Homo sapiens: one gene and its partner. The protein of the gene in region 1 interacts with the protein of each later gene in a pairwise test. Each region holds a gene or a part of one and is shown on either strand. Other genes may lie near its edges.

The links. The genes of interacting proteins can lie anywhere in the genome.
Region 2: the proteins of TMPO (region 1) and LMNB2 interact in a two-hybrid assay, tested with the Homo sapiens proteins (2 studies listed by BioGRID, with this or other methods).

What each region holds. Positions count from the first base shown.
Region 1 is NC_000012.12:98,539,568-98,546,594, forward strand, and holds part of TMPO (thymopoietin), read left to right. Parts: intron 1-4,662; coding exon 4,663-4,782; intron 4,783-4,874; coding exon 4,875-4,970; intron 4,971-5,383; coding exon 5,384-5,494; intron 5,495-6,791; coding exon 6,792-6,880; intron 6,881-7,027. UniProt on the Homo sapiens protein: May help direct the assembly of the nuclear lamina and thereby help maintain the structural organization of the nuclear envelope. Possible receptor for attachment of lamin filaments to the inner nuclear membrane.
Region 2 is NC_000019.10:2,439,940-2,446,966, reverse strand, and holds part of LMNB2 (lamin-B2), read left to right. Parts: intron 1-2,426; coding exon 2,427-2,563; intron 2,564-7,027. UniProt on the Homo sapiens protein: Lamins are intermediate filament proteins that assemble into a filamentous meshwork, and which constitute the major components of the nuclear lamina, a fibrous layer on the nucleoplasmic side of the inner nuclear membrane.

The sequences.
Region 1 (7,027 bases):
GGTTCAAGCAGTTCTCCTGCTTCAGCCTCCTGAGTAGCTGGGATTACAGGTTCCCGCCACCATGCCCAGCTAGTTTTTGAATTCTTAGTAGAGACCAGGTTTCACCATGTTGGCCAAGCTGGTCTCGAACTCCTGACCTCAGGTGATCCACCCGCCTTGGCCTCCCAGATTGCTGGGATTACAGGCATGAGCTACCGCACCTGGCAATAAATTGCTTTTGATTTTTTTTATTTTGCTTTTTCCTGGAGTATATTAAAGCAGTCTTTGACATAGTGTTTCACACATTAAAAAGTCAGCATTTTAGCATATATCTCTGAAAGATAAGTGCTATTCCAGTGACAATGCCAATATCACACCTAATAAAATTAATAATTTATTTGTATCTAATTCATGTTTAAATTTCTCTAGTTTCAGAAATGTTTCGTTTATGATTATGTTGTTCAAATCAGGATCCAGACAGGATCCACATATCCGGTTTGATTTTTGGTTGTTTTACTCTCTCAAGTCTGTAGCTGTTACCACTGTAACTTTTTCTCTTCCCTCCATTTATTTGGTGAAGAAACCAGGTCATTACAGAATTTCCCAACATTCTGGATTTGTTAGGTTGCTTCTTTATGTCATTTAATTAGCTTCTCTATACGCTGCATTTTCTGTAGAGTGGGTTAGATCTGTAGTGAGGCTATGCAGTAGACCTTTCTGTGATAGAAATTTTTCATACCTGTGCTATCCGTTACAGTAGCCACTAGCTATTGAATACTTCGATGGTGACTAGTGAGGCTGAGAAACTCTGTTTTGCTTTGTTGTTGTTGTTGTTTTTGTTTTTGTTTGTTTGTTTTTTGAGATGGAGTTTCATTCTTTTTGCCAAGGTTGGTGTGATCTCAGCTCCCCACAACCTCTGCCTCCCAAGTTCAAGCGATTCTCCTGCCTCAGCCTCCTGAGTAGCTGGGATTACAGGCATGTGCCACCACGCCCGGCTAATTTTGTATTTTTAGTAGAGACGGGGTTTCTCCGTGTTGGTCAGGCAGGTCTCGAACTCCCGACCTCAGGTGATCCACCCGCCTCAGCCTCCCAAAATGCTGGGATTACAGGCGTGAGCCACTGCGCCTGGCGGAAACTATGTTTTAATTTTAATTTAAATTAAATTTCAATGACCATATGTGGCTAGTGGCCTACCATATTGGACGGCACAGATCCAGAGGGTTGGTCAGATCCATGTCCAGTTTCTTTCACAAGAATACTTAAATGATATAGCGGCCTTCCTGTTACATCGTTTTAGGAGGTATAGAATGTCTTTCTGGCGATGCTAAAATTAGTAATTGATTTAGATTTTGAAAGATTAATCCATCTGTTATAAAGATCCACATTGTCCTTTCATTTAATGGTTCTAACAGCCATTGTCATATGATTATTGCCTAGGTCTATTATTTTGAGGTTTTTTTTATGTATTGAATTTATGATCAGTTACAGTCATCATTCTTTTTTGATGTTCACATTGTGCCATCTGTAGCCATTAGGAATTACTAAGTTGGTTCCTGTATTTTTTAATTCCTTCCCCCATTTATCTTTGATAGTTTCTTGTTTTCTGGAATAGTAAGACGTCCCAGGCTCATGTATACTTCCTGCGTCATGCCTGGAATCAGCCATGTTTCTAAGGAACCGTGATCCTTTTAATAGATAATACTATTTGGAAGCAACAATTTGGATGCTGACATGTTCATTCCTACTGGTTGTCATTGTTTCTGGGTCTTTTCAGTAGGTAGTGCTAGGTAAATCATGAATTAATGGTGATATTTCAAATTTATAAATACAGGCTAATTTTGGGTTATGTTATACTTGTATCATTTTTATCTTATGCTGAATATCTTGGTTCTTCAAATGATGTTGTTACTTATGTAAGTATCACAACATATATGTGTTTCTAAATAATACAGTATTACTACTAACAATAAGACTGTTAAATGCAATTTGGGCTTTTGTTTTCCTTGTCTTTAGGACATATCCCACTAGAATGTAATGTCAAAACACTGTGCTTAAAGTCACTTGAAAGAATTTTTTTGTGTCATACAGCCACCAACTTAATAGTTAGGTTTTTTTGTTCTCTAATGCTAGGATTGCTTTTTCTTTTATTATTTTTTAATTGTGTTGAGAGTATAATGTAGTTTTATGTAGGCAAAATAAGGTAGAGTCAGAATTTTGGCTTCTGTCCTTTTCCCTTCCATCTACAGATAAGCATTTTTATTGTTTTGATTTATATTTTGTTTCTTTTTAAAAATATAAGTAAATATATAGATTTTTATATGCTCCCCTTTTACATAAAATGCAGCCTGCTTTGTACATTTCCATTTTTAACCTAAACCTAGAGATCACTCCATATCGGAACGTAGCCATCTTCCTCATTGCTTTGTACAACTGCATTTTATGTGTTGCATTTTATGGATGTACTGTAATTTATTTAACCACTCTCCATTTGGTGAATATTTGAGTTGTTTTCAGCTGTATGTTGCTATGAATAATGCCAGGATGAACCATGGAGCAGCATTTTGCATGTGTCACTGCATATTTTTTGCCAGTTTATCTTGGGGAAGCGTACCAGTAAAATTGCTAGGTAATTTCACCATTACATTTCTCTGCATATGAGTTGAAGCATTTTGCATTCCCACCAGCAGTGTTTGAAAGTACTGTTCTCAAATGGAGGAATATGAGGCTTTTTTGTTTTGTTTTGTTTTTTAATAAAGTTAGTACGAGTAACCATATTGGTCATGTTTTACTTAAATTGATAGGCCTTCAAGATGGCTTTTAGTTATCTCAGGAGCTTTAGAAATTATCTATTCCCAGACCTGGAGAGATTCTGATTTAATTGGTTATGGTAGTTGGGGGCATTTGCTTTTTTTTTTTTTTTTAAAGCTCTCCTTGATGGTACTGTGCCACAAGGATTGAGAATCTCAGATTATAAAACTACCTTTCCGTCTATTCAAATAGTTGGTAATTTGACTATTAAAAACCACTTACTCTGGCCAGGTGCAGTGGCTCACACCTGTAATCCCCGCACTTTGGGAGGCCCAGGTGGGTGGATCACCTGAGGTCAGGAGACCAGCCTGGCCAACATGGCAAAACCCTGTCTCTACTGAAAATACAAAAAAATCAGCCAAGTGTGCTGGTGCGTGCCTGTAATCCCAGCTACTCAGGAGGGTGAGGCAGGAGAATCACTTGAACCTCGCAGGTGGAGGTTGCGGTGAGTGGAGATTGCACCACTGTACTCCAGCCTGGGCAACAGAGCGAGATTCTGTCTCAAAAAAATAAATAAAATAAAAATTAAAAAGCAGTTACTCTGTGTATGTCTGTAATTTGTTTACAAGTTTCTCTTTTGACAATAATTTTGCATTCAGCAAATACTTCCTAATTGATAGGATGAGGAACCCAGAGATTCAGATTGTGACTTAAAACTCTTATAATATCAATTCCAAATATAGATAAATACAAAACCATGATTTATGAGACTATGTCTGTAACTTGTGGGGTTTTGGTAGTATTACATCCAGCCATTTAGGCATATTTATTGGATGACCACTCCTGTCACAGGATTAAAGTTTAAAAAAAAAATCTGTCTTTAATAGACATTGACTTGGACCTAAAACCATCAGTAATCTAGGTTAAATATTGGCGTGAAAGCAAAAGTGACAACAGAAGGACACTCTACTATAATACTGATCATTGATGGATGTTCTGTAGTTAAAAGAATTTAAAAGAATCATCTGGTAATAGCGACTTCAAAACTGAAAACCTTAAACTACTTGGAATGCGGAATTTCGGGCCCTACAGCTACAGAATCAGAATCTGCATTTAACAGAAGCTTCAAGTGATTGATAGGCACATTACAATTTAAGAAGAACTGATCTAATGGGTTTTAAACCAGTATGTAAGAAATGCTGGATTCTTTAAAAATGATCAGTGGAACATAGAAATTAATCTGAGACTGAGAATTAATCTGAGGCAGCTGTTTTCTGTCTTTCTGTAGTGACATGGATAGCATTGAGATTTGAAAGTGACGTTAGGCTTGCATATTCATTAAAGAGTGACCACAGGGTTTTTGTGGCTACCTAATTTTGTATCTGTTTCCAAGAAAAATTTGACACCTGAGAATTTTTTAGTTCAAATAAGCTATATGTGGGATTATAATTTAAACTGATTCTACTAAAATGATTATAACCATATGAAAATAATAATGTTTATGCTAACAATTACAAAAGTTTGTATTTTTGTTTTAAAAGGAAACTGACTTATAATAGATGACTTTTTTCTAAGTCATGATCAGTCTGCTTTTTGTTTAGACAGAGATGTAGCTCCAATACTAGAGCCAAATAGCACACAGTGAGTCAAAAAGGGAACTGGTGATAGTTGATGTGCTTTTTTTCCCATAATGTTTATAATTTGTGAGCTACTATAGGTGGATTCTTTAGTGTATTTTAGCACTTTTTAAGTGTTTCCTGATGCCTAAATATCAGTTCAATTAATACATTTAGGAATATTTTGAGGACATAGCCTTGTTTGTAAATGCTGGCATTTGGAGACTTCTATTTCATGGCTTCTCAGTGTGCCAGTATGGCCGTTATTAAAGTATTTGATGTTAGAATATGACTTTTTAATGTGTTGATGCTTGAATAGAGCTATTCTCAAGCTGGAATAACTGAGACTGAATGGACAAGTGGATCTTCAAAAGGCGGACCTCTGCAGGCATTAACTAGGGAATCTACAAGAGGGTCAAGAAGAACTCCAAGGAAAAGGGTGATGCAAGGCTTATTCCTTGGGTTTTCAGATTTGTAGGGTTTTAGTATTATTTTATATTTATTGTTTTTGTTTTGTTTTCAAACTAACAGGTGGAAACTTCAGAACATTTTCGTATAGATGGTCCAGTAATTTCAGAGAGTACTCCCATAGCTGAAACTATAATGGCTTCAAGCAACGAATCCTTAGTAAATATGTTTCATAAACTATACAAGTGGTATTCTTTGTAAATTACCCTTTAATTGGAAATGGGGAGGTGGTGAATTTTGGCAAATCTCAAATTTACATGTTTTTTTTTTTTAACAATTTTAAACTGATTTTCCCCATATAGTTCTGAATTTTAGAATTTTCCTATAATATCCAATTTATGTAAAGAAATCTAATTCATTGTACAAGAAAGTATAAGGATATTTTTTGTTAAAATATTTGAAGAATGAGGCTTCATATGTGAGGCACTAAGTTGTGTTTGTAGGCTGTGTTGCTTAAATCTTTACTAAGGGAAAATTTCTAATATTACAGAGATAAAATATCTTTCTTTTCTTTTTAAGTGTCTGTGTTATGTTTGGATAATTCTGAGTCTGAATAATTTGAATCTTGGCAGGTTGTCAATAGGGTGACTGGAAATTTCAAGCATGCATCTCCTATTCTGCCAATCACTGAATTCTCAGACATACCCAGAAGAGCACCAAAGAAACCATTGACAAGAGCTGAAGTAAATGAATACAATTTAGATCGATGCTATCATTGATCTTTCAAAGAGGAAATATAAATATTTGTTTGTTTTTTTTTTTTTTTTTTGGAGTGGGAGGGAGCAGAGCTTTCTTTATTGGGTGGTGTGTGTAAATATGCATAAATTATTTTAAGGACACTTTTATTAGTGAAAACAGAAATTAACTAATATAGTTTGACATGCTAATACTATCCTCTTGCCACTGTATCCCTCTTAAGTTCCAGTTTTCAAGGGAGTGGTCATTTCTGTTCTGCTTATAATATGTTCTGTTTGTCATGGATGCAAGTTTGAAAGTGCTGCTGGGCTATGAGGGAGGCTACACTTTCTTTTGTTGACGGGTCAAATAAGAGACTTTAACATAACTTCATGTGGTGCTGGAATGGGTTAACTCCTGTGTAATTAAGCTTGAAAGTACTAACTGCATGGTGCATTTTAATTTGAATGAATCTTTACAAAAGGAGCCGAAACATTTATTATTTTGTTCTGGACATAAAGGTAAACAGTAAAACAAGCTAAACATTATATTTTTTTTAATTTGGGCATATTGCATTGACTATAATTTTAAAACATATAGTAAAGTTTGCTAAAGGTTCATGTTAAGTATCTTCTGTATTTTATCTTTTACTACAGAATTCTTAATAAATGAAGAAACAGTATACTTTTTTTTTTTTGAAACGGAGTCTTGCTCTGTTGCCCAGGCTGGAGTGCAGTGGCACGGTCTCAGCTCACTGCAACCTCCGCCTCCTGGGTTCAAGCGATTCTCCTGCCTCAGCCTCCTGAGTAGCTGGGATTACGGGTGCCCGCCACCACGCCCAGCTAATTTTTGTATTTTTAGTAGAGATGGGATTTCACTATGTTGGTCAGGCTGGTCTCGAACTCCTGACCTCAGGTGATCCACCCGCCTCAGCCTCCCAAAGTGCTGGGATTACAGGCGTGAGCCACCGTACCCGGCCCAACAATATACTCTTAATAGTAAAAAACAAAATCAATGAGGGAATTAGCATTGCCATGTTAGATTACTGAATTTTTTCCCCCCAGTTATTTAAATGTGTGGCAGTTTTTCACTCCAATAACCACATATATAAGGTATCTTCAAGAAATTTGAAGAGAGCCTTGGAAGCATGTGGATACCTAAATAATAATTTAGAAATGGCAGCTGTAAAATCTATGATAGATTTAAAGGCATTTTGTTCTCTAAAACTTACTATTTATGTTTTAATTATTGCATGTTTACACTAAATTTTAACTTGTGGTTGTTTGTTTGTCTGTTTCTTATTAGGTGGGAGAAAAAACAGAGGAAAGAAGAGTAGAAAGGGATATTCTTAAGGAAATGTTCCCCTATGAAGCATCTACACCAACAGGAATTAGGTATTCAGATACATTTAAACAAGTACTAGTGTATTCTAGTAGGGAATCTTTATTTTTAATTCTTCATCACAAAGTTACTGTACTTCTGCTCAGAATTAAGCTGTTTTTTTGGAGCCAGGTACAATGGTACATGCCTGTAGTCCCAGC
Region 2 (7,027 bases), on another chromosome or scaffold:
GGGTTTCACTGTGTTAGCCAGGATGGTCTCGATCTCCTGACCTTGTGATCCGCCCGCCTCGGCTTCCCAAAGTGCTGGGATTACAGGTGTGAGCCACTGCGCCCGGCACCATGTGTAGTTTTCAAACATGCATGGATGTGAATTTCATGTCTTCTGGGTCCACACCCAGGAGTGGAGTTACCGGGTCACAGGGTGGCTCTGTGACTCTTGGGGGAGCCCCTGGACTGTTTTCTGTAGAGCTGTCTCAGCTCAGGTTCCTGCCGCTGCCTGTGAGGTTCCGATTTCTCTGCGTACTCGCCCGCACCTGCGACTGTCTGTCTTCTTGACGGACGCCCTGGCTGGTGCGAAGTGGCATCTCACTGCGGTTTGCTTCCACATATTTTTAAACTCACTGAGTGCATGGCCCTGTGGGAGGAGGGGAGGCAGGAAGGCCACTAGAAGCCTGAGCTGTGCCCCCAGCTGGCGCGTGCAGAGGCCGGGCAGGTGGCGGCTGTGGTTGCAGCAGGATTAGTAGGAAGTGAAGAGGTCGCCTTCCCTGGCACCGCATGTGCCTCGAGTTCACCTGGAGGCCCTCGAGAGGGGCGGGTTTGGGGGCTTTGCGCGGGGCTTAGGGAGGGGCTTTCTTTAGCTGGGCGGCCCAGAGGGTGTTCCAGTCGCTTCTGCCTGCCCTGGTGACCCCTGGCTCTCCAGCCCCTCCCCATGTCCTTGCTGGCTGGGCTGGGTCTCCGTCGGGAAAGGTGGGGGCCGCTGGTGGGGTGGGGAGCTGGAGACTCTGACTACAGATCCCTGTGATCGAGGGGTGAAAGGTGGGGGTGACTGGTGGGGGGGGCAGCTGGGGACTGACTACAGATCCCTGTGATCGAGGGGTGAAAGGTGGGGGCGGCTGGTGGGGTGGGGAGTTGGGGACTCTGACTACAGATCCCTGTGATTGAGGGGTGAAAGGTGGGGGCAGCTGGTGGGGTGGGGAGTTGGGGACTCTGACTACAGATCCCTGTGATCGACGGGTGAAAGGTGGGGGCGGCTGGTTGGGGGGGGCAGCTGGGGACTGACTACAGATCCCTGTGATCGAGGGGTGAAAGGTGGGGGCGGCTGGTGGGGTGGGGAGTTGGGGACTCTGACTACAGATCGCTGTGATCGAGGGGTGAAAGGTGGGGGCCGCTGGTGGGGTGGGGAGCTGGGGACTCTGACTGCAGATCCCTGTGATCGAGGGGTGAAACGTGGGGGCCGCTGGTGGGGTGGGGAGCTGGGGACTCTGACTGCAGATCCCTGTGATCGAGGGGTGAAAGGTGGGGGCCGCTGGTGGGGTAGGGAGCTGGGGACTCTGACTGCAGATCCCTGTGATCGAGGGGTGAAAGGTGGGGGCCGCTGGTGGGGTGGGGAGTTGGGGACTCTGACTACAGATCCCTGTGATCGAGGGGTGAAAGGTGGGGGCCGCTGGTGGGGTGGGGAGCTGGGGACTCTGACTGCAGATCTCTGTGATTGAGGGGTGGGAGCTTCTGTCCTGGAGCCTCCGAGCCACCACATTGGCAGCTGGCCTGTCGGGGGGACACAGCATGGGAAGGCCAGATGCTCCTCCCTCCATCCCAGGGAACAGCCCAGCCTGAGCCTGGGCCATGTGCCTGCGTGTGAGGTAGGGGCACAGAGGGGCACGGGCTGGCCCCCGGTTGGCAGAAGTGGGGGATCTTGGGCTCAGCGGGGTCTGGGGGAGCGGGGGCTCCAGGTTGCAGAGGCCTGGGGGGAGTCTCAGGGGCCCAGAGGGGTCTGGGAGGGGACTCCAGGTTGCAAAGGCTGGTGGGGGCAGGGGGCTCTCAGGCCCAGTGGGGTCTGGGAGGGCCCCGGGTTGCTGTCATCACCAGTTGTCCGAGAGTGATCAGCCCAGTGTCCATGGTGCCCAGCGGGAGAGATCCTTGATTAAACATCCCACCAGTTTTCTGGTTCTGAAACCGAGAGTGTGAAAAATGCATCTAATGGCCAGGCATCGTGTCGCTATGACAGCGGCCAAGGGGCTGCATGTCCAGGTGTGGCTGGTCCTCCGGGGAAGGGGACAGGCTCCATCCAGCTGCTGTGCTGGTCCAGGCCCAGGGCCTTTGGTCTCCAGCACTGGGCGCCGCTGTTCTGGGAGCTGGAGCTCGTGGAGAGACGATCATTCCAGAGGGGGCCGCAGCAGAGGAGGAGGCTCCTGGGATGGCTGGGACCCAGGGTCGCCTGGCTTCCTCCTGGTTACCGGACCCTCCCCGACAGGGGGCTCCCTTTGCTGTGTCTGTGAGATGGGCAACACAGGGTGTCCCAGTGTCCCCAGGCTGCCATCCTCTCTCTCTGCGTGCCAGTCCCTGGGAATCTGAGCAGGGCCAGTGGCCGGGCCCCCTGACTGCTGTAGTCCAAGGGGAAGGGTCCCTCTCGCTTCACCCTGTCCTGGGTCTCCCCAGGTGAGTGGCATCAAGGCGCTGTACGAGTCGGAGCTGGCCGATGCCCGGAGAGTCCTGGATGAGACGGCTCGAGAGCGTGCCCGGCTGCAGATAGAGATTGGGAAGCTGAGGGCAGAGTTGGACGAGGTCAACAAGAGGTGAGTGGTCACGGCTGGGCACGACGTCACCCTGATCCTGGCACCACGGGGTGGACGGGGGCAGGTGGGCGCTGGGCTCGTGCGGGGCATGCTCTGATACGGGCACAGCCTGGAGCTCACAGCTCCCATCCTCTCTCCCCCACCAGTGGCTGCCACGTCACTTTTTCTGTTCTGAGGAAAGTGATAGATGCTCACATCGGACAGCAGGAAGCGCAGGGCAGCTTAAGCTCACAAGTAAAATCTCCCGCGAGCCTCCCCAGAGAGGGCTTCCTGGTCAGCCTGGCCTGTCTCCTTAGTGTGCACACGCGCTTGCACATGCTTACCTAGACCCCGGGCGGCACCCAGTGGACACCGTGAGACGCGTTTGACCTCAGGCCCCATCGTAGGCATTTCCCTGTGGTTGGATGTTCTTGGTGCCGGGGTTTTGTCCCAGCTGTTGGGACGCTCGGGTGTGTGGTGTGTGACCAGGGTGCTCATGGGTTGTTGGGCTGCCCCAGGGTTGGCTGCAAAGTCCTTCTGGGTGACAACTGTGTCCATCGGCAGAAACGATCTCCCCTCTCAGCCTGGCAGTGAGTCTTGCCTGATTCTGGGCGTGGGATGTGGTTGGGCGGCAATTTAAACAGAACGATGATGACAAAAGGAATATTTATTCAGAGGAGCCAGGAGGCCAATGAAACACTGAGCTCAAGGCTTTTCTTGATGTGAGGCTCCAGCTAGAGCGAGGTCTCTGGTGCCCTGCGTGTGGACACTGTCTTCCGTGGTCTCCGGCCACCGGCATTCAGGCACCTGCAGGTGCCTCGGATTTCCTCAGGCTGGGGTGGGTCAGGGTCTTCCCACACTGCTCATTCTCCCAGAGCCACGCAGGCCTGGCTCAGCATGGAGGGATCTGCTGGCAGGAGGGGTGGCACCTCGGCCACCTGGTACGGGGGTGACAGCAGCCAGTGGCTTGAGAATCCACGTTGTCCCTGAGTTGGAGTGTGGCCAGAGGAATGACCGGGGACCCTGTGTCCAACAGTGCCGGGGCCCCCATGCGTGGTTGCAGGTGACCTCTCCATCCGACGCCCTCCTCCTTCCTGGGCTGGCGCTGCTCCCGTGGAGAGCTGACTTCCCTTCCCCAACAGGAGACCCTCCAGGTCAGCCCAGGGACCACCGCCCGCCTGCCCGGGGCCTGGGGCTCCAGGAGGGACCATTTGTGCCCTGATGGTGGCCATGAGCCGGGGACCCTGGGGCCAGGCACCAGCCAGGACAGGCTGCCCACTCTCAGCACATCCCACACAGCACAGGTGCACCCCGGGACCTGCTCAGGCAGCAGCTCTGTGCTGTCTACCTCCAGCACCCACCGTGTTTAATAAGCAGGTTCATCAGTGGAGCCATGCAGGCTGTGGGATGACTAGAGCTTGGTCAGGGGTGCACGGAGCTCTGAAATGTCAGAACTACACCGTGCAGATGGGACAGAGCTGCTGCTGGCCCCGCACCAGGCGCCTCTCAACTGTTCACTTTAAGATGTTGAAATGTACAGGATGTGAATTTCACCTCAAATTAAAACATTAAAAAAAGAAAATGGTACACAGTGCCCGCCCTAGGTGTTGAGGAATTCCCAGTTCACAATCTCCTGAGCAGTGCGTGGCATCTACAGAGAGGCCCGTCTTTTCCTTTTCATTAAGACAGGGTCTCTGTTGCCTAGGCTGGAGCTCAGTGGCACAATCATAGCTCGCTGCAGCCTCGAACTCCCAGGCTCAGGTGATCCTGCCTCAGCCCCACCCCGAGTAGCTGGGACCCCAGGCATGCACCACTACACCCAACTAATTTTTTTTATTTTTTATTTATTTCCTTTTGAGACATAGTCTTGCTCTGTCACCCAGGCTGGAGTGCAGTGGTGCAATCTCGGCTCACTGCAACATCCACCTCCCAAATTCAAACGATTCTCCTGCCTCAGCCTCCTGAATAGTTGGGATTAGAGGCTCACACCACCTTGCCCAGCTAATTTTTTTACCAAGTTGGCCAGGCTGGTCTCAAACTCCTGGACTTAAGCGATCCACCCGCCTTGGCCTCCCAGAGTGCTGGGATTACAGATGTAAACCACCATGCCTGGCCTAATTTTTTTATTATTTGTAGAGATGAGGTCTCGCTATGTTGCTCAAGCTGGTCTTCAACTCCCAGGCTAAAGTGATCCTCCCACCTCAGCCTCCCAAAGCACTGGGTATAGGTATGAGCCACTGGGCCAAGCCTAATGTTTTTCTTATCCTAACAAATTTATCTCCAAAACCCCACAATGAGAGAAACACTGGGAGCAGCGTGCAGGACCTAACAAGCCAGAGCCTGCCACAAAACCCCGGGCACCCAGCTGAAGATTCTAACTCAGCACCTGGCGCTTAGGAAACGGGTCTGAGCCCTGGGAGCCCGCACCCTGCCTTCTGGGTGTGCCCTGCAGTCCTGCGGAACCCTGTGGTTTAGACCGAGTTGCTGAGGAGCTTCCCGGATTCCCCGATCTCCGCTCCAGTCCTCTGAGCTGGTCTGCAGCCTGCCTCTTCCACCTCACCCCTGGGCCTTTGCACTGCTGCTCGCCTGCCTGGAAGGCTCTTTCAGCAGCGGTGGCCCTGGCTCCTCCAGCACTGCTCCTTCAGGTCTCTGCCCCCAGGGTTGTCTCCCAGCCCCACTCCAGCCCTGCCCCCAGGCAACCTCCTGTCTGGTAGGCAGCCTGTGTCGCTGATGCCTCCCTCCGCAAGGACGTCCCGCAGTGTAAGGCAAGGGTTCTAGATGCACCTCTGGTGTGAGAGCGGTGCCTTCCACACAGCGGGCACTCGGGATTTGCCCAACAGATTCCACCTTCCCCCAAACCCCTGCAAAAATCCCCAGCAGGGCCGCAGGGCTCGCAGCCCTCTGAGCGAAAGGGCCTGGCCTGTGTGGCATGTGCTCAGAGATGCGGGATCTGCACCCCAGACCCTGCTGGAGATCTGCTCCATGTGGGGAAGTAGAGCTTAGTGTCCCTGAGGGCTGCGGACAGGGGTGCATCAGCCTTGTGGCCGAAGTCTCTGGCCTTCACGCCTCTCAAAAGCAAGCAGATGCCACACCTCTAGTGTGTGGAGAGCCCTGGCTACACCAGGTCCAGCGCCAGAGCGGCTGGCCGCCCTGCCCTGGCGGGACACAACCGGAGCCAGACCCGGGATTCAGGGTACCCGGCACGGATGCTTTTACCTGGCAGGTGGCCTTAGACCTGGTTGTCTGACCCCCGACCAGGGACCCCTCACACGAGAGACCTGTTTACACAGTGGCTGCCCCGTAGCTCGTGTCTGACCTGTGTCCAGGGTATGCCTGTCCGACCATCGCTCTGGCACTGGGATCCCAGCCTGGGGCAGCTCCTGGTTCTTCTGACAGAAGGCGCAAATTCAGCACAGCGATAGGAAACAAGTTTGAAGATTTATTACGGATCCTAGGCAGGGAGGGCACTGTGAGCTGGGAAGGCAGCCCTCCCTCCCCGGGTCACACAAGGAAGGAAGGAAGAGTCCCACAGAGAGTGAGAGCTTGGCAGCTAGTGAGAGAGAGAGGGAGATGGGTGGATGATGGATGGATGGCTGGATGGGTGGACGGATGATGGATGGATGAGTAGATGGATGGATGATGGATAGATAATGGATAGATAGATGATGGATGGATGAGTGGATAGATGGATGGATGGATGGATGAGTAGATGGATGAATGGATAGATGATTGAGGGATGGATGGAAGGATGGATGGATGGAGATGATGGATAGATGATGGATGGATGAGTAGATGGATGGATGGATGATGGGTGGATGGATAGATGGACAGATGAGTGGATGGATGGATGGATGATGGGTGGATGGATGGATGGATGATGGGTAGATGGATAGACAGTAATAGATAGAGCAATAGATAGATATAGCTATCTGTAAGGCTGGGTGCGGTGGCTCATGCCTGTAATCCCAGCACTTTGGGAGGCCAAGGCGGACAGATCACTTGAGGATGGGAGTTCAAGACCAGGCTAACCAACATGGAGAAACCCCGTCTCTACTAAAAATACAAAATTATCTGGGCGTGCTGGCACTTGCCTGTAATCTCAGCTACTTGGGAGGCTGAGGGAGGAGAATCGCTTGAACCCGGGAGGTGGAGGTTGCAGTGAACCGAGATCGCACCATTGCACTCCAGCCTGGGCAACAAGAGCGAAACTCCATCTCAAAAAAAAAAAAAAAGATACAGCCATCTGTAGAATTGATATATACGGACATAGATTATATAGATAAATACAGTTATTGATGGAGATATACTTAGACAGACATACGGTCACTTTCAGCTATGGGTCACTTTCATTTCTTGGGCAAATGCCTAGGTGGTCTTTTGAAAGGCCCTGGGGGACCAGGCGCAGTGGTTCACGCCTGTAATCCCAGCACTTTGGAGGCCGAGGCGGGCAGATCACCTGAGGTTGGGAGTTCGAGACCAGCCTGG